Regions from separate parts of the Homo sapiens genome. Here region 1 is linked to region 2. A link means that fine-mapping ties the variant in region 2 to the expression of a gene that starts in the linked region. Tissue or cell type: whole blood. Region 2 holds a variant in brackets; the other region holds the start of a gene. All regions are shown on one strand. Distances are from middle to middle.

What was found. PIP is the estimated chance that this variant, and not a neighbour inherited with it, causes the effect.
Region 1: TEX101 starts here. The variant in region 2 is fine-mapped to the expression of TEX101 in whole blood (INTERVAL, PIP 0.99).

What each region holds. Positions count from the first base shown.
Region 1 is chr19:43,408,665-43,418,659 of GRCh38, reverse strand. TEX101 (testis expressed 101) reads right to left here and starts at 3,770. Exons shown (of 6, transcript NM_001130011.3): 1 at 3,622-3,770; 2 at 2,677-2,779; 3 at 2,418-2,561; 4 at 2,105-2,287; 5 at 654-782; 6 at 63-492. The coding sequence starts at 2,740. The coding sequence ends at 263. RefSeq lists a silencer at 5,383-5,569.
Region 2 is chr19:43,368,132-43,378,126 of GRCh38, reverse strand. It overlaps the pseudogene CD177P1. Among named protein-coding and RNA genes, the nearest start is that of CD177, 19 kb to the right of the region's middle. The variant C/T (reference allele first, on the strand shown) is at 5,388.

The DNA.
Region 1 (9,995 bases), 41 kb before region 2:
GATGAATTTTAAAGGCTCTTTCAGCACTAAAATTCCACTTCTAGTGTTGAAACATACACAAATCACAGCAGAAATGTTTATTAGTAACGCCTACTGCATACAAAAATTATAGCAGAAATTGTATTAAAAATGTCAAATACGTTCATAGTATCTCTGTATTCTCCCTCAAATTCCCATCTACTCCTCAGCTTGTTGAACCTCAACAGTAAGAAGGCTCCCAGTCAAAAAAGATGTCCTCAGACCCAGGCCCAGAAGTGCCTTCTTAGGAAAAGTGAATAAATGATGGCAGCAGCAATGGCAGCAGTAGCTGTAACCCCCAAACAGGAATGGGAAGACAGGTGGCCCCATTTTCAGTCTTTCGAGGTTGAGTGAGCAGCTGATGTGGGCACGCTTCCCTCACAAACATGGGTCCTACTGCTAAGATTCCAGACATCAGCCTGCAGCCAATCATGGCTGTACAGCCTTTGACCTCCACAGACGACTCAATGCCACCTATAGAACAAGGAAGGATCGGGAGAGACAGAGATGTTTTAGGACATCAGAGGAGAATCCAGTCCCCCCTCATCCCTGGAGAGCTCAGTGTCAGAATCTCTGGGGAGCCACTCAAATGGTTTTCCAGCCTCTGAAACTATCAGATGTTCATTTCAGTTTACCTCCAGTGATCTCAAGTTTTCCTTGATAGCATCGAGTTGTACCATTGGGACAGGGAAGAGAAGGAGCACTGAAACAGGTCCCCAAAGCCACACAGGTTGGACAATGGAGGGTTGTTGACACAGTGGAAGCTGGAGGGAAATGAGAGAGACAGTTAAGGGCAGGTCCTGCCTCCAGAGATGTTGCTCCTTGCTGCCTTCTCTTCCCCAAGATTTTCCTGCAGATGCCACTCTAATCAAGGCCCATTACTTCAGCCTCCCCATCCTTCCCCAGCTGGTGTTCTCTGCTGTGAAATCTCCATCGATCTGACTTCCAAACTCTGCTGAGGTGTGAAGATACAGAGATGAAAAGGACATAGTTCCTGTCACCTGGCATCTCTGCCTAGGAGAAAGACATGTAAGTAATCAATTCAGTAGCTGCTGTGTTCAAGGTATAATGACAAAGGAATGGAGGAATACCCAACTACCTAAAAGAATTTGGCAAATATTTTCAAAGAGCTGATACCTGAATTGACATGGAGGATGAACAGGGGTTAGCTATGTGAAAATGGGGTGGGGAGGGTAGTAAAGGAAACAGCAAGGACAAAGGTCAGGTGGTGTGAGCCAGCTTGGTGGATTCAGGGAATTGTGAGAAGTTGCACGACTCATATTCAGCTTGTAGGCCCAGCTGTTTCTTTGATCTGTTTTTTTTGTTTTTGTTTTTGTTTTTTATGGCCAGAATCCATTTTGATTGGCCAGTGCCATCTACATTGTTAAGCATTTTGAGTATTAGCCCCAGTTAGCACACAGTAAATGAGAGAGGGAAGAGAGGGAAATGAAGCTGAAAAGACAGGAAGGGCCAAGTTACTACAGGCCTTGTAAATTGGGGAACTGGGCCGTTCTCGTGCAGCAGTGGGAAACCAATACTTGTTAGACTGATAATACCACCCTGTTCGGAAACCTACACTGATGTCTTATTGCTTTTTTTTTTTTTTTTTTTGATGGAGTCTTGCTCTCTGTCCCAGGCTGAAGTGCAGTGGTGTGATATTGGCTCACTGCAACCTCTGCCTCCTGGGTTCAAGCAATTCTCCTGCCTCAGCTTCCCGAGTATCTGGGATTACAGGTGTGCGCCACCAGGCTAAGCTAATTTTTGTATTTTTAGTAGAGACAGGTTTTCACCATGTTGGCCAAGCTGGTCCCAAACCCCTGACCTCAGGCGATCCACCTCACCCAGCCTGTCTTATTGCTTAATAAACACAAAACCCAGTTTACACTCCAGGCTTCACTGGTATCTCGCTGCTCTGAGCAGTGTTTAGATCCCAATGAACAATTCAGAAACATAAAATTACTTGAACTGTGAGGTACTTTGGGGTATGGACCACTTAGGCTAAGCCAAGTCAGAATGCAAAGGGAGGCCATACACAAGCTCTTTATGGAGTTTCTCTTAGTACCTATCTCCCCCACTTCCAGGGTACCTGTGGTCTCACTGAACTCCCAAAACTGAGACAGGCTGTCTTTGTCATTACAGAAGGAATCCTCACAGTAGTTACTGTAGGAGGTCACGATCAGGCCGGGAGGTGAAGAGTGCTGGACAATTGTTATGGCCTCCTCCCCTTCCGGGATGCAGCCCTTCGTGGCCAAAATGGCTGTCTCAGTCCCTGTTATGAGACAGGAAGGAGGGGAAATGGATGGTGGCCGTCACAATTGGCCTGGACGAAGGGAACAAGCATTGGCATGGAGATAATCAACCTCCCTCCTACCCAGCCCAAATGCCCCATCTCATTTCACCTGCTTTAATTATTAGTATGGTTTCCTGGCAAAGTGCCCCTTTGTCACAAGTCTCCACTTCCTCTGTGGTCCAGTTAAACATATTGGCTGGATCTGCTTCCACAGTCATGGACAGACCCTTTTGACAATACAGCTCTAGGCCCGCTGAGGAGAAAACAAGAAAAGGATAAGCACTTCTCCATGGGCCAAGGCGGCTCCCTTTTCATCATCAGTCCACCTTCTGTGACACACGGCTCTCCCCTATGTCCCCCATACGCACAGGTCAGGAGGGAGGCTCCTAGGACCAGGAGGATCAGCAAATGCTGGATACGAGGGGTTCCCATGGCTTCTTCTGGAGAGGTCTGGGAGGAGCTGGTCTGGATCTGTGAATTTGATGGAGAGAAGGCAATTAACTTTTCAGCCAGAGTGCATGAGATCAAATCTAGGTCCTGGCAAGTACTGACTTCAGGGTGGGGTGTTTTAATCTGCATTTTTTTTTTTTTTGAGACGGAGTCTTGCACTGTCGCCCAGGCTGGAGTGCAGTGGCGCAATCTCGGCTCACTGCCTCTGCCTATCAGGTTCAAGCAATTCTCCTGCCTCAGCCTCCCGAGTAGCCGGGATTACAGGTGCCCGCCACCACACCCAGTGAATTTTTTGTATTTTTAGTAGAGATGACGTTTCACCATGTTGGTCAGGCTGGTCTCGAACTCCTGATCTCAGGTGATCTGCCCGCCTCGTCCCCCCATAGTGCTGGGATTCCAGGAGTGAGCCCTGATGCCCGGCCTCACAGTGGGGTTTATGGTGTATATGACCACGACTTCTAAAGTCGTTCTGTCCCTAACCGGCTTGTGAGCTGGAGCGAGTTCACAGGTTTATCACGCCCCAGTTTTTCATGGTTTTAATTCTCAGGCCCGGCCACCCAGTGCCCTCCAACTTCAGGATCAGGAGTGTGGCCCTGAAGGCCGCTTCTCCCTCAGTCTCAGGGGTCCCTTACATTCTCTCAGGGACCCAGAATCTCGGCCCCCAGCCCCAGCCCCAGCCTCATCAGAACCCGGGATTCTGAGAGCCCAGCCCCGTCCTATGTAGGGATCGAGGAGTCTGGGTTCCAACCACCTTTTCCTGCGGGACACACCATTCTGGTCCCCTCCCTCTCAGGCCCGGGAGCCCAGGCCCCCAACCCTCGTTCCCCTCAGAGCCAGGATCTGGGTCCCCAGCCTTCTCTTTCCTCAGAATCCAGGAATCTGAGTCCCTAGCCTTCTTTTTCTCTTTAAAGAAGCAAAATTGCTGCCGGCTTCCAGGCAGACGCCTCACAAGAATCTCACGACGCCAAAGTTGAGGCCCGGAACGCCTTCTCCCCGGGCTTGGCATTCTCTTACGACGCAAGGCCGGGCCAGCCTGGCCACACAGCACTCGAAACCCCATTGGTGGATGCAAAAGCATCGGATAAGTTCATTGGATGAGCCTGGAGGAACGCGGCACCTCATTGGCCACAGAGAAGTCAATTCCTGGCAATCTCGGAGGGTGCGCATGCTCGGAAGGTGAGTGGCGGGCAAACCGGCCGGAAGATCCTGCCTGTTTTTGCAGCCAGAGGCACGCAATGGAGGGTGGGCAGTGCGTTGCCAGATGGCCTCGCCTGGCCCATTTCTCTTTTTGCACTCTGTTGTCTCTGCTTCTCCAGCCACACTAGGAGGTCAGACCCTTGGCCCTCACTCACGGAACTTATCTCCCTACCCAAATGGCCTCTCATGTTCCCAGCCTGGCCCCTGCCTCGGCACCCACCTTAGTGGCCCTAGCCTCTGGGAGTCAGCTTGGCCTCTTGAGTCTTCACTTGCAGTGGCCCCTGTGCAGCCCAGGCGTCTTCATCTGATTGCGCTATCGCACCAGCCTCCTCATGGTCTCCTGGAGGGTTGAATCTAGGAATGCCCCCCTCAGCATCACTTTGGGCACCCCGAATGCATGCATGAGCAGTAGCTATGATGGCACAGGCTGCTGTCAGATCGAACCCACGCGTCCGTGTCAGGACCATGAAGAAGACATGTCACTCGGATTTGTTGCTCATGGCTGGCAGTTCACTTTCACATCTATGTAACCTTCCCTTCCCTCCCCTCCCCTCCCTTCCCCTCCCCTTCCCTTCCCTTTTTGACAGACTTTTGCTCTTTTTGCCCAGGCTGGAGTGCAATGGCACAATCTTGGCTCCCTGCAACCTCCTCCTCCTGGGTTCAAGTGATTCTCCTACCACAGCCTCCCAGGTAGCTGGGATTACAGGCATAAGCTACCATGCCTGGCTAATTTTTTGTATTTTTTTTTTGGAGACAGAGCCTCTCTCTATCCCCCAGGCTGGAGTGCAGTGACGTGATCTCAGCTCACTGCAACCTCCCTCTCCCAGGTTCAAGCGATTCTCATGCCTCAGTCTCCCCTGAGCAGCTAGGATTACAGGCACCTGCCACCACACCTGGCTAATTTTTGTATTTTTAGTAGAGACGGGGTTTCGCCGTGTTGACCAGGCTGGTCTTGAACTCCTAACCTCAGGTGATCTGCCCACCTCGGCCTCCCAGAGTACTGGGATTACAGACGTGAGCCACCACCCCTGGCCTATGTAAGCTTTCCAGGTGTGACATGAAGTTGTAGCAGGATGAGCTGCAGACAAAACTCCTCAGATACTGGATTAAAGAAGGAAGAGGTTTATTTGGCCGGGAGCCTCAGCAGACTTGCGTCTTAAGAGCCGAGCTCCCTGAAAAATAAATTCTTGGCCTTTTTTTTTTTTTTTGGAGTCTCCCTCTGTTGCCCAGGCTGGAGTGCAGTGGTGCAATCTCGGCTCACTGCAAGCTCTGCCTCCCGACTTCATGCCATTCTCCTGCCTCCGCCTCCCGAGTAGCTGGGACTACAGTCACCCACCACCACACCCGGCTAATTTTTTTGTATTTTTAGTAGAGATGGGGTTTCACTGTGTTAGCCAGGATGGTCTCGATCTCCTGACCTCGTGATCCGCCCGCCCCCCAAAGTGCTGGGATTACAGGCATGAGCCACCACGCCTGGCCAATTCTTGGCCTTTTTAAAGGCTTACAACTTCGAGGGGTCCACATGAAAGGGTCGTGATAAATCGAGCAAGCGTGGGAAACGTGACTGGGGGCTACATGCATCAGGTAACAGAACAGAAAGTTTTGCAATGCTTTTTCATATAATGTCTGGAACTTACAGATAACACAAGTAGTTTAGGTCAGGGGTTGCTGTTATTATTATTACTTTTTTTAACTCCTAGGGCTGGGTGGTGGTGCCAAGGTTGACTGGCTATTTATCTTACTTCTGTTTCTTTCCAACTTTTTGCTTTCTCTCTTTCCTCCTGTCTTGTGAACTAGGCAAGGTCGGGGGAGGAGGGCAGCAGGAGTAGTAGTGGTCTCCTTCCTTAAAGTAAGGCAACGCTTTGTATACTTTCAGAATTGGTACTGATTCTGTAAGTTATAGTATAAATGAGTATTTATTTTTAATAGAGAAAATGCCACAATAAGAAAGGGATTGGTAAAGCTTCAATCCCTTTGTTATCTTTGAACTGTTATCTTTGAATGATCACATGTCAAAGGATCCAGGAAGAATGTGTGCCAGTTTTCAGCCCCCGTCTGTCCCCCGAGGGCTCGTGCTTGGGAAAGCAGTCACCTTGTTGAGTCACTCTCCAGGTGACTTGGTCGCAGAATCCCTCCATCTCACACCTAGAAGAGACCTTGGAAGCCTAAGCACCCTCCACCTCTATTCTTCACCCCATTTCTGCTTCAACAGCTCCAGGGACCTCCTCTTGCTCCGTGACATAGTTTGGATATTTGTCCCCCGCCCAAATCTCATGTTGAAATGTAATTCCCAGTGTTGGAGATGCGACCTGGTGGAAGGTGTTTGGGTTATGGGGGCAGATCCTTCATGACTTGGTGCTGTCCTTGCAATGATGAGTGAGTCCTTGCCAGATCTGGTTGTTTAAGTGTGTGGCACCTCCCCTTCTTACTCTCTCTCGCTCCCCTTCTCTGGCCTGCATCCTTTTGCCATAAGTAAAAGCTCTCTGAGGCCTCCCCAGAAGGAGATGCTGGCACCACGCTTCCTGTACAGCTGCAGAACCTTGAGCCAATCAAACCTCTTTTCTTATAAATTACTTCTAGTCTCAGGTATTTCTTTATAGCAGTGCAAGAACACCCCAATACACAGCCCCTTGAGAAAGGTGGCTTTGCCTTTTTGGTGCAAGAGAGATTGACAGATCTTCCTTAGCCTGAGCCAATTTCTGTTCCTCTCCAAGCTTCAGTGTCCTCATCTAGAAAATGAAGAGGTTAGGCTGGGTGCAGTGGCTCAAGCCCATAATCCCAGCACTTTGGGAGGCCAAGGTGGGTGGTTCACCTGAGGTCAGGAGTTTGAGACCAGCCTGACCTTCACCAACACGGTGAAACCCTGTCTCTGCTAAAAATACAAAAATTAGCCAGGCCTGGTGGCACGCGCCTGTAATCCCAGCTACTTGGGAGGCTGAGGCAGGAGAATCACTTGAACCTGGGAGGCGGAGGTTGCAGTGAGCTGAGACTGCACCATTGCACTCCAGCCTGGGCAACAAGAGCAAAACTTGGTCTTGGTCTCAAAAAAAAAGAAAAAAAAGAAAAAAAAGAAAATGAGGAGGTTAGTCTAGAGCAATGGTTGGCAAATAGTTTATGAATCCATGGAACGTTTGTAAAAAAGAAAAAAGCTCAATGGCTAATATACAGTGAAGGCATCTTTTTATATAAGCACTTGTGACACCACCATTGGTCACTGGATTATTGCAGTACGCCCTGCCCTTGCCCATGTGGCTATTTCCCACCTGGCACCAGAGCGATCTCTTAATTGCAAGCCACACCACATTACTCCTGTTTAAAACTTTCTAATGGGCCAGGCACGGTGGCTCAGGCCTGTAATCCCAGCACTTTGGGAGGCCGAGGTGGTGGATCACCTGAGATCAGGAGTTCGAGACCAGCCTGGCCAACATGGTGAAACCCTGTCTCCACTAAAAATGAAAAAATTAGCTGGGCGTGGTGGTGCGCCCCTGTAATCCCAGCTACTCTGGATGCTGCAGCGAGAGAATCATTTGAACCTGGGAGGTGGAGGCTGCAGTGAGTCAAGATTGTGCTACTGCACTGCAGCCTGGGTGACAGAGCAAGACTCTGTTTCAAAAAAACCAAAACCTTCCAGTGGATTCTCATTTTACCTCAAGTAAGATTCTAGGCTGGGTGCCATGGCTCATGCCTGTAATCCCAACACTTTGGGAGGCTGAGGTGGGAGGATCGCTGGAGCCCAGGAGGTGGAGGTTGCAGTTGCAGTGAGCCGAGATAACGCCACTGTACTCCAGCTTTTGCTCTGGTGACAGAGCAAGACCCTGTCTCAAAAAAAAATTTTTTTTTTGTACTTTATAGTATAATTGGCTATGTGTGTTCATGTGTGACTGTGAGTGCATGCATGTTTGTGTGTGCACATGTCTGTATATATGTATGTCTGTGTGTATCTGTGTGCTGTGTGTGAATGTGTGTCTGATGTGTGTGTCTCGGTGTACATGTCAGTGTGCATGTGTGCATGGGCATGTGTGTATCTGGTTCCTTCCAGCTGTGTCTGATCCATCTCTGTGTACTCAGCATATGATTACAGTGTAGGTAAGTAAACATTTGCTGGATTAAAGAATGTCTCTTAGATCCAGAAATGAGAAACACACAACAGTGAGCCACCACATACCTCAGGCCCTCCGTATTCCATCCTCAGAATTTTTTCCATGCTTCCTGTATTCCTGGGGGAAAATTCCAACCTCCCACACTGGTCTTGGAGACCAGCCCCCATGCCTCACCCTTATCATTCCCTGTCTAATATCTATTCCCAGGACATCCCTAGTCTCTTCCAGCCTCTTTGGCTTTGCTCACACTGGTCCCTCTGCATGGGAGACCTCTCCCTAATCCGCTTCCCCCATGCATTTGTTTACCCCACAAACTCCTAATTGTCCTTCAAAGCCCATTCCTCCAATGCCCACAGCCCTCAGTGAAGCCGGCATAAGCATCGTGCAGCTCCCTTTTTGAGTGCTCCAGTTCTCCTACCAACAGGCCTATGCACACACCCAGTTCCCTCTCAAACCAACAGGCTTTTCCTTCCTACTTGTAAAGGATTGAGATCTTCTGCAAACCTTACAAAACAATGAGTTGTAAGCCTTGAGGTTAAACCACCAGTTTTACTTATTTTTTTTTTGAGACAGGATCTCTCTCAATCTTGTCCAGGCTGGAGTACAGTGGTGCAATCACAGCTCACTGCAGCCTCAAACTCCTGGGCTCAAACAATCCTCCCACTTCAGCCTCTTGGGTGGGAGTACAGGAACATGTCACCATGCCAGCTAATTATTTTACTATTAAACCCCAAGCCACAGAATGTCTTTTTGAAGACTGCTAATTACTAATCATAGAGGAAACACTCGCCTTGCTTACACTCACATTTGTTTCTCCTTTTCTTTTTTTTCCACAGAGATGGAGTCTTGCTCTGTCACCCAGAGCTGGAGTGCAATGGTGCAATCTTGGCTCACTGCAACCTTCGCCTCCCAGGTTCAAGCAATTCTCCTGCTTCAGTCTCTTTTACCTTCTGTTTTGAATTCTATTTTCTTTCTTTCTTTTTTTTTTTTTACTAGTACTTCAACTTTCTTGTGCTTACTGTTTGCATGGTATATCTTTTTCAATACTCACACTTTCAATAATGCTTTTCCCTATATGTAAAATATTTCCCTTGTAGACAGTATATATGGGTATTGCTTTTTTATGCAATTTGACCAATCTGTACCCCTTAATTGAAATGTTTGGCCTGTTAACATTGTTAGGTCTAAAGCTGCCTCCCTACTACTTTAAGTTTGGTCTAATGGTTTCTCCATACATAGTGAACTGTAACCTAACTTGATGTGTAAACAGTCTGTAACCTGCTATAGTAAAAATAGCTGAGTCTCAGCCAATCACAGGTACCCAACTAACTGTTCAAACCTGGTTCAAATAAGGCAAGCACCCAACTGTTAGCAGTCCAGCTATTTCAGTGCCTTCCTTAGTTTCTTCTACATCACTTTCTTCTGCGGTAGATGTTATCCAACCATTTATGGACGGAACACCCTGAAGTTTCTCTGAACCTACTCTGGGTCTGGGGGCTACCTGATTAATGCATCATTCATTACTCAATTAAACTGTGTTAAATTTAACGTGTCTGAAGTTTTTCCTTTAGTCAGCCAATTAATCTAATTATTGATTTGACTGCATGTAAATCTACGCTTCAACTTGTGAGTTGGAAGTAGAATGAGGTCACAGTTTCAGGTAGCACCAGGCCTCCACGGGTTCATGAGAATTTCCAGGTGTCCAGGGGTGGGATCAGGCCACAGTATCAGATGGCAGCATCGGTGCTTGAGAAGTTTCCCATGTGACCTTAGGGATCCCAGGATGATGCCCCATAGTCCAGGGATCTTGGGGATGGGAAGAGTCTGGTCTGACTCACTGTGAGGCCTCGCTGAAGCTGTCTTTCTCTGATAGTGCAGCCCTCCCTGAATCCAGGGCTGGAGTGACCTCGATCTGCACAGATCTCTCCAAAAAGAACAAA
Region 2 (9,995 bases):
AGAAGCAAAGTCTTCCCTGCCCCTGCCTCAGTTTCCTTGTCTGCCCACATCACGCTAACCCTTAGAGCTTAGAAGAGAGAGTTGTGTGAGCTCTGCACACATTCCTCTGTGTATTTGGCTGTTTCTCCCTAGCTAGGCTGGGAGCCTGAGGCTAGGGGCTTGGTACCACTGGCACCAGGGTTTCCAGCCTTGGGTAGCTCAGGAGACGGCTCAGGAAGGGTACCAGGAGGTGTTTGCTCAAGTGAGGACATGCAGGGCTCACTTGAGCAAAGCTCCCTCATGAGTCAGACCCTGTTTCTACCTGAAGGGCCTCCAGGACTAGGAGGGGGAGGTGCTACAGACACAGATGGTCACAGCTTGAGGTGATCAGGGCTGTGGCAAACGGGGATGTGGGGCCTGGGGCAGCTCAGAGGAGGAAAATACTGATGTTGTTGGGGTAGAGAGTCAAGGAGGGCTTTACAGAGGAGGTGGCCTGTGAACCGTGTGTTAAAGATGACCTACAGCTTATTGGTAGAAGAGGAAGAGGACATTGGTGGCAGAGGGAACAGTGTGTAGCAGCTGCATAGGCCTGGAGGTGGGAGTGAGCCTGCTGTTTTCAAGAAGAGTCCCTCACTCCACCTGAGAAGGACTCATCAAGATGAGGGGGTACAGCTGGGATTGGGGGTGATTCGAAGTTTTCCAGGTGGACAAGGTGGGTGTGGGGTCGAAGAGGGAGCTGCTCCAAGCCAAAGGCACAGCAGGTGTGAGGCTGAGGAGGAAATGAACTGGCATGCCTTCAGAATGGATACTGGTGGGGGAGGAAGAGTTAAGTGGGGAACCTGGTGGTCGCTCAAGTACCTGAAAACCCAGGCTGAGGGGTGGACCCTCTCCTGAAGGCAGGGGAGCCATGGAAGATTGTGGAGCAGGGAGGGCAGGGTCTGAGCCATTTATCTTTCCTTTTGACTGATGCTGCTGTTAAGGATCTGGCCCTGGTCTCTGGGACCAGATGACACTGATAACCCAGAAGGTATTTCAGAAACAAATCAGACGCAACACATGCCACACACACAGCCCACAATAAGCACAGCAGACACGAATGCGTCACACCATGACACATACACACCACACATCACATACCACACACACACTCCCCCATACCCCTGACATACCACCTATGGAACACAAATCACACACAGAGCACACAATATGCACAACACACACAAATGCATCACACGAGTGCACAATTACTACGTGTACATGTAGTGTGTATGCCACATACTACACGTCAGGTACCACACACACTCTCCCTCTCAACATATCAGACATGCAATACATACCACACACAACACACAATACACACAACACATCTGGCATGCCACACACACCACATGCAAGCAAAACACAGATACACAGAACACACACCACACCAAACACACAAAACAAACACATACCACATATATCACACACAGTATGTCTACACATGCACGCACCACACAAACATACCATGAACACACCACACACCCCATACAACCACACCCCCCACATGTATACTACGCACTCACACACAGCACACATACCTGCACACATCACGCATGTGCACACACTACACAAACGCACCACATAAAACACAGCGACTATGCACCAATCAGTGCTGTTCATAGAGATTCATCTTCTGCTTTCAACACTGGAGCCAGATCTTGCAGGCTGTTTTGCCTCCCTGGTGAAGTGCAGTTCAGCAGTTTAGCAGACAGTGAGCATCACAAGACCAGGCATCAGAAACTGGGGGAACAACAAGACGTTGGGGACCAAGTGCAGGAGAGAAGAGGCTTCAGGGTGATGGAACCGCTTATAAGAAGCCGCAGCAGTGGGAGGGCTGGGTGCAAGGATGCAGGTTACTAAAAGGGGCCATGGCAGCAGCCCCTTGTGAAGAACCAAGGGGCCCGGGCAGATAAGGCCCTGGCTGCCCCTAGAGGAGCTGGGCAGCGGTCCCAGTGAGAGAGCAGGGAAGAGCCCACGTCTGAATCAGGGACACGTGGGTCCCAGGCCCAGCTCTGCCGCCGAAACAGCTTTCCAGCCTCAGCTTCACACGAGGATCAAAAGTCTCCATATCTCATGGAGCCTCTTTCCCTGGATTTGGGGAAGAGGAGGGGATGGTTGCAGACATGGGACGGAAGCAGATGCAAAGACCATGATGTGGGTGAGTGCCTGCCAGAAACACCTGTGCGGAGCAGAGTGATGGAGGGAGCAGGGAGGCGGCCGCGTCTTATCAGGCCTCCCGGGCCATTGGAAGGGCTTAGAATTTTATTCTCCAGAATGGGGACCTCCTGGAGTCTTCGGAGCAGAGGAGTGACATGAACTGACTTAGGTTTACCTAGCCTCCCTCTGCCTGCTGGGTGGAGAATGGAGCGAGAGGAACAGTGACAGGCGGGTGCAGGGATTGCCCCAGGAGTCAGGTGGGAGTGAAGCGGGGGGCTTGGAGGCAGCAGAGGTGGTGACGTGGGGTTGGGTTTTGAAGATTTTCTGCAGCTCAAGCCAGTAGGATTACTTGAGGAACACAATGTGGGAGAGAAAGAGCGTGGTCAAGGACAACACCAATGTGTTCAGCTAGACTGGCAGAAACGAGCCGCCACGGGTGTAAGTAGGGGAGATGGGAGTGGGGAGAGAAGGGTGGGAGAAGGGAGCAGGAGCCATGATTTTGATTTTGTCATCTGTGAAGTATGCAAATGAGCAGCCCTCCAGGGTGGCATCGGTTCTGCAGGTCGCATGTGTTGGTGGAAGCTGGGGGCTCAGTCTAAGAGTCCCTGCATCATGGGACCGATCCCCCCTGCTCTGTGATGGCCGTGAGGGGAGGCCAGGGGCTGTGGTTTCACACTAGAGCCTTGAGGGCCTCGGGGCCAAGGTAGCCGAGGATGGTCTTCAGTACCTGTCTCCCTCCTGCTCCCAACCCCGACCCTGAGGGTCCAGAGTCCCTGGGTTCCCAGCCTACCTCTGCCACTCACAAGCTGTGTGGCATGGGCAGCTACTGAGCAATCCTGCCTCTGTTTCCCTTGTTGCAAATGAGGGTGTTGATTGTGATCACACCACCTACTGCTGGGGTGCTGTGGGGAAATGAGGCATCCCAGATAAGCTGTGTTCCCTGGAACCTTAGATGGGTGGATCTGTGGGAAGCAATGAGGTCAGCCAGGTGCAGAGGCAGTGCTCAGCGGCAGTGCTCAGCCCACCCTGGCCCTTCGCATCTTGTTTGGAACATAGGGCTTTGCAACTGAAAGGTATGAGAAAGGTCTCAGGCTGCCTTCCTTATTATTGAAATGAGGACCTTAAAGCTCAGATGGGGAAGCAGAGATGGGCAGAGGCTCAGGAAGAGCTTCCATTGCTCTCACAGCTGAAGCAAGGAATGGCTGTTCTCACAGGGCTGTGAGAGGACGTCCCTGCGGGTGTTCAAGCAGAAACAGGGAACAATGGGGGTGGGGTTTGGACTCCCAAGTCCCTTCTGAATCCGTGGTTGAGGGACTCCGTGGCCAGGTCACCTGGAGTGTGACTCAAGAGCATGATCACCTTCCCTAGCCCAGGACGTGGAGGGACAGACATGGTGGGTTCCTGGCTTACACAGACCCTGGGTTTCCTCTCCCCAGATGTTCTGACCTGTCATCGGGGGACCACCTTGAAGAAGCAGGAAAACTTGAGTAAAGAACCCACTGATTGGGCCACATCTAATACCGAGACGTGCGAGGTGGGGCAGGTGTGTCAGGAGATGCTGCTGCTCATAGATGTAGGTACGTGGACTGAGGTAGAAGACGAACACCTGTCCCAAGTCCCTGGCAGCTCCCTCCACCCCACTGGATTCTTTCCCCTGAATTTCCTGCTCAGCTCCCTTCACATCTGCAATTTTCAATCCGACTCTTCTTCTCTCTGCATCTTGGGTTCCCCTTATGAAAACTGGGGGTGAAGCAGTGGGAATGACAGTGTCTGCCTTTCTGGGGAGGGGTGACCACGTATGCGGTAATCCCTGCCCAGGGTGGAGAACCGTGCCAACACCGAGGACTCTCAGTGGCTTCATACATTCTGGAAATGTTTATCCAGCATTTGTTTTAGGTGCCGCAGATCCAATCCCATCTGTATTCCTGCAGCTTTATATGCCTTGAGAAACAGGAAACAAACAAACAAAAAGCAGCAAAGTATGGGGAATGGAGATCCCAGCTCTGGAGAGAAATCTGGCAAGGAAAAGGAGATAGGAAAAGTGAGGGGAAGGCTGCAATTTTAAGCTCAGTGCTCAGGGGAGACTCATGGAGAAGGTGACGTTTGAGCGAGAACTGGGAGGAGGCAGAGCTTCGGGCAGGACCCAGGCCCCAGCCTCCGTCTTTGCCCCACACTAAACATGACCCAGCAGTTGTGATCAGGGCATTCACCCTCTGCCTGGGGGGTATTGTGAAGGGCAGGGAGTCCAGCTCTGGAGCCCCTGCTGCCCTGGGAGCTGCCCAGTCCCCAGCCCAGCTTTCCCTCTCACCCTCAGGACTCACATCAACCCTGGTGGCGACCTAAAGCTGCAGCGCTGTTGGGGCTCAAAATTCCCAGAAGACCACCATCCACTCAGCCCCTCCTGGGGTGCTTGTGGCCTCCTATACCCACTTCTGCTCCTCGGACCTGTGCAATAGTGCCAGCAGCAGCAGCGTTCTGCTGAACTCCCTCCCTCCTCAAGGTATGGGATCCAGGGCCGTGGAGAAATGAGGCCCAGACACACAGAGACTCTGGCCCAAGGTGGGCAGCTGCTCTGAGCACAAAGTCATGTACCCCCACCTTCCCTCTGCTCCCCAGCTGCCCCTGTCCCAGGAGACCGGCAGTGTCCTACCTGTGTGCAGCCCCTTGGAACCTGTTCAAGTGGCTCCCCCCGAATGACCTGCCCCAGGGGCGCCACTCATTGTTATGATGGGTACATTCATCTCTCAGGAGGTGAGTGCTGCAAGCAGGGCCCCAAGGATGAAGGCGCTGGTGTCCTGGGCTCCTGGGACTGAGGGAGAAGGGGCTGGGGGCCTGGACTCCTGGGTCTGAGGTAGGAGGGGCTGGGGGTCTGAGCTCCTGCGTTTGAGGGAGGAGGGTCTGGGGCCTGGACTCCTGGGTTTATGAATTTGGCTGGGCTGTACTCTGTGTCCTTTCTGACTTGGTCTTCTCCCTCTAGGTGGGCTGACCACCAGAATGAGCATTCAGGGCTGTGTGGCCCAACCTTCCAGCTCCTTGTTGAACCACACCAGACAAATTGGGATCTTCTCTGTGTGTGAGAAGGGTGATGAGCCGCCTCCTGCCTCTCAGCATGAGGGAGGTGGGGCTGGGGGCCTGGAGTGTCTCACTTGGGGGGTGGGGCTGGCACTGGCCCCAGCGCTGTGGTGGGGAGCGGTTTGCCCTTCCTGCTAACT[C/T]CATTTCCCCCACGATTCTTCACCGCTGCTCACCACCACACTCAACCGTCCCTTGTGCTTGTAACCTAATGGCCTTGGACACCAGATTATTTCCCCATCCTGTCCATGAATCATCTTCCCCACACATAATCATTCATATCTACTCACCTAATAGCAACACTGGGGAGAGCCTGGAGCAGCCGGACTTGCCCTGTGGGAGAGGGGACACTGGAGGAGTGGCTGCATGTGTCTGATAATAAAGACCCTGTGCTTTCTCCCAGTGCTGGGATTTCTCCATGTAAGGGGACAGCAGGACGCCCAGGGATCTAGCATGGTGGAGGAGAGGAACCTAATGAGAAAATGGCCATCCAAAGCCTGCCCTTCATTGGTCTGGTTCATGTCTCCAAACCAGCTTGGATGGTAGCAGAGACTTCAGGGTGCTCCAGCCAAACGTATTTGGGCATCACCATGACCTGGGAGGGGAAGATGCACTGAGATGTATGAGGCTTCCAGCCTAGCAGCCAGGGCCCTAGCACAAACAGGGGGCTGGCCCCATCTGAGCGACTGCAGGAGAGGTTAGTATAGTCATGCATTGCTTTACGACAGGGACGTGTCGTTAGAAATGTGTCGTTAGGTGATTTTATCACGAAAGGAACATTGTAGAGTGCACTTACACCAACCCAGATGGTACAGCCCAATACACACCCAGGATGGATGGTAGAGTTGACTGCTCCTAGGCTACAAGCCTGCAGTGCATGTTATGGTGTGAATACTGCAGGCATCGTAACACCACGGCAAGTATTTGTGCATCTATACACATCTAAACATAGAAAAGGTACAGCATAAATACACTATTGTCATCTCAGGAGACCACCGTTCTATACGCAATTCGTCACTGACCCAAACGTTGCTATGTAGCATCTGCCTATTGTGGGATAATTGACATAAGGGCTAAAGAGAACTCCAGAAAAAAATGGGTTAGCATTTTCCCAGAGCTGTTACCATTGGGTATCTCTTACCACCATAGCCCAAAAAGGGTGAGGAGAAGAGCCACTGCTGGAATCTGCAGACAGAGAGAGAGAGAGAGAGAGAGACATAGACAGAAAGAGACAGAGAGAGCTGGAGAGAGAGCCGGAGACAGAAAGAGAGAGATATTCAGAGAGGGTTGCCTAACAAGAGCTCCCATCTCAGGCTGAAAAACGCGTCCAGCCCGCAATGATACTGGGGAGGGAAGTGGGGAACTAAAATTCCAAACTGATGTCCTCACTCTGGTCTCCAGTTGAGGTTCCCCATTGACTGAACCCCCTAGAGGCCACAGAAGCAGGAGACTCCACTGGTCCAGCCCCCATAGATCTGCCATTCACAGTAGAGAACAGAGGAGAGGAAAGGGAAGAGGAGAAGAGAGTGAATCTGGAGAAGGAAACAGAACACGTCTAGCACCGTTCACTCCCTTGCCCCTCGGCATCCACCCTTTCCCTTTGTCCAGATGAAAATCAGAGTCCAGGACAGGCTCGGTGGCTCACGCCTGTAATGCCAGCACTTTGGGAAGCTGAGGTGGGAGGATCACTCGAGCCCAGGAGTTTGAGACCAGCCTGGGCAACATAGTGAAACTGCTTCTCTACAAAAAATACAAAAAATTAGCCGGGTGTGGTGGTGCGTGCCTGTCTGTAGTCCCAGTACTTTGGGAGGCCGAGGCGGGCAGATCATGAGGTCAGGAGATTGAGACCATCCTGGCTAATACCGTGAAATCCAGTCTCCACTAAGACAACAAAAAATTAGCCGGGTGTGGTGGTGCACGCCTGTGGTCCCAGCTACTGAGAAGGCTGAGTCCAGAAGGTCAAGGCTGCAGTGAGCCAAGACTGCACCACTGCACTCCAGCCTGGGGGACAGAGCGAGACCCTGTCTCAAGGGGGAAAAAATAATCAGAGTCCTCCGTACAGACGACACACAATTCCAGTCCTTCCCTCTGTCACAGTAACAGTGTGTGATGGTGACAGTGATGTCCTCCTCCCATTGTGCTGTGCACCAGTTCTTCGCCCACAATGAGAGGAAGATGGGGAAGAGATGGCTTCCAATACAGCTGCTGAGGTCCTGGGGGCGGGGCTGCTGGTGCTCAGAGCTGCTTTCTTCCAGTACATTCCACATTGTCCTCCCACCTCCAAAACCTCCTTTGGATGTTATTTGTTACCTGCAGTGTAACCCAAATCTTGATTCTTATGGAGAGTGAGTCTTGGATGGCCTTGTCTTTAGTGGGTTTCTATAGTTTTCCATGGAACAGGGCCCTGGCCAAGGAAATGTTACCGCCATGAGTTGCCTGCCTTCGAAAATAGCCTCCTTGTCCCAGCCACCCGACCTCCCTCTGTAATCAGATGCCATTCCCCCGACTGCAGAGTGACGTCTCCTTTGCCTGCTGTTTTGGCAGCACAAGGGGCACAGGATGGCTGGAGGGCTGTCATGGCTTCCTGCAGATCAGAACTAGGAAGAGATTCCTCATCCACAGCAGCCCAGGGCCACGGGGACAAAGAGCAAGCATTCTCTCAGTGGGCTGGCAGGTGCAGTCACGGGAGGGAGCCGCGCTTATTCTTCCTGTCTTTCCTGGATCTTTGCATCTGGCCCTGGGGCGCGTGACCCGATAGCCTGGTTGCTGGTTTATAAGATGTGTGGCCCCTCCTGTGGGTGGTGGGGTACGGTCTCCCTCCCGGTGCCCTGATAAGCCACACATGAGCCATTGCGCCAATCTGAGAAGCAGCTGTGTCTGTATAGAGGGGCACCTGAGACGGTCAGTGGGTTCCATGGGTGTGAGTTAATTACCCCCCATTCTTTGCGTTAACACGTGTCCCCAGTGGAAGCAACCCTGCATGGGTTCCAGAGCCACAGGAAAGGCGCTGTTCACAGAAGCACTGAGCAGGGTCCAGGGAAGGCCAACTGGAACCCCCAGTGTGTGCGTATCCGTGTGAGGACAAAGCCCAGTCCCCTCCAGGATGGGACGTGTCCTGTGTGGCCAGCCTATCTGCAGTGGCCGGGTAGTCCTCCTGTAAAATGACGCCTTCCAGGGGCTTAGCCCCGGGCTCTGCCTACACTGGGCAGGGCTGGGTACAGTGTGCAGCCAGGCCAGTGCTGGGAGACTCAGTCCACTTGTGGTAAGGTACGTCGCCGTCCTCCCTATCCATGTGGCCATCTGCACCTGGACCCCCTGAACAAGCTCTGAGGGACAGAGTCTGCCTGACACCATCCACCAAACACCAAGAACCTCATCCCCACAGCACAGGTTCTGGGCTTAAGGGTGGGGACGGCATAGCTCACACTTTGTGCCCATCCCCAGAGGAACATCCATGTGTCCTCCCTGTCTTAAGTTTACTCTTTTATTCTCTTCAAGTCCTTGACCATGTGGCCCGCTCTGGGTTCATGCAATGGACCCAAGTCCATCCCTCCTTGCAGAACCCCTGAGGTTCTGCCCATCTGAAGGATTTCCCTTCATCACTCCTCAGGACCACCTGAAGTGGGCACTAAGGCAGCCGCCGTCCACTTCTGCTGGGCGCCAGCTCACCGTGAGGACCCATCCATAAGCCTGGTCTGCACTTTCCTCCTCTGTATGAGGTCACAGGGCTTCCCAGGAGCTCACAGATGTGGTAGAGGGAGGGGCAGGAGGACAGGTGCCATGGGAGCCTGAGTCACTTGCAGTCGGGGGAACGGCATCTCATTACAGAGGGAGGTCAGGTGGCTGGGACAAGGAGGCTATTTTCGACCTTTGGGAATTACAGCTGAACGTGAGATTTGTGTTCGGACAGAGGAAAGCCATATCATTTGGCTTGTTTACACCTTTGGCTAGTGTGAATAATGCTGCTATGAACAAAGACATGCAGATACCTGCTGGGGCCCCTGCTCTCAGTTCTTTTCAGAATACACCAGAAGTAGAATTGCTGCATCGTGTGGTAAGTCTATGATTAATTTTTTGAGAAATGACCACAGTGGTTGTGCCATATTATATACCCACAAACACTGCACAAGCATTCCAATTTCTCCTCGCCAACACTTTGTTTTTTTTTTTTTTTTTTTTTTCAGAACTGCCATCAGAACAGATGTAAGGTGGTATCTCACTGTGGTTTTGATTTCCATTTTCCTAATGATAAGTGATGTTGACCAAATTTTATTTGCTTATTGGCCATTTATAAATTCATTTTACATTTCCTCCTTTGTAATGCCAGAGGTGGCACACTGTGCACTGTTCTGCTTCTTGTTTTTCTCACTGTGCAGTGTATCTTGGAAGTCTTTCCAAGTGGGTCGACAGAAGGATACTTCAATAAAAATGGGCAACACCGCTGGACAGCCATCAGAGCCATGAAGTCCCTGGCTTAGGGGAAGGCAGAAGGAGGGTGAGAAACAGAGAGATCGAGAAAGGCAGAGAGAGAATGGGGGCAGGGATGGAGAGAGAAAGAGAAAATGATAAAGACCCAGAGAGAGACAGAGTCAGAGATATATGGGGGTGGAGAGGGGAGATACAGAGAGAGGCAGAGAGGAAAGGGTACAGAGACACTAACACAGAGAGATGGAGGGAGGGGAGAGGCATGGACAGAGGGAGAACTCAGAGAGTCAGAGCCAGAGAAGTAAAAGGTGTGCCGTAGAGAGACA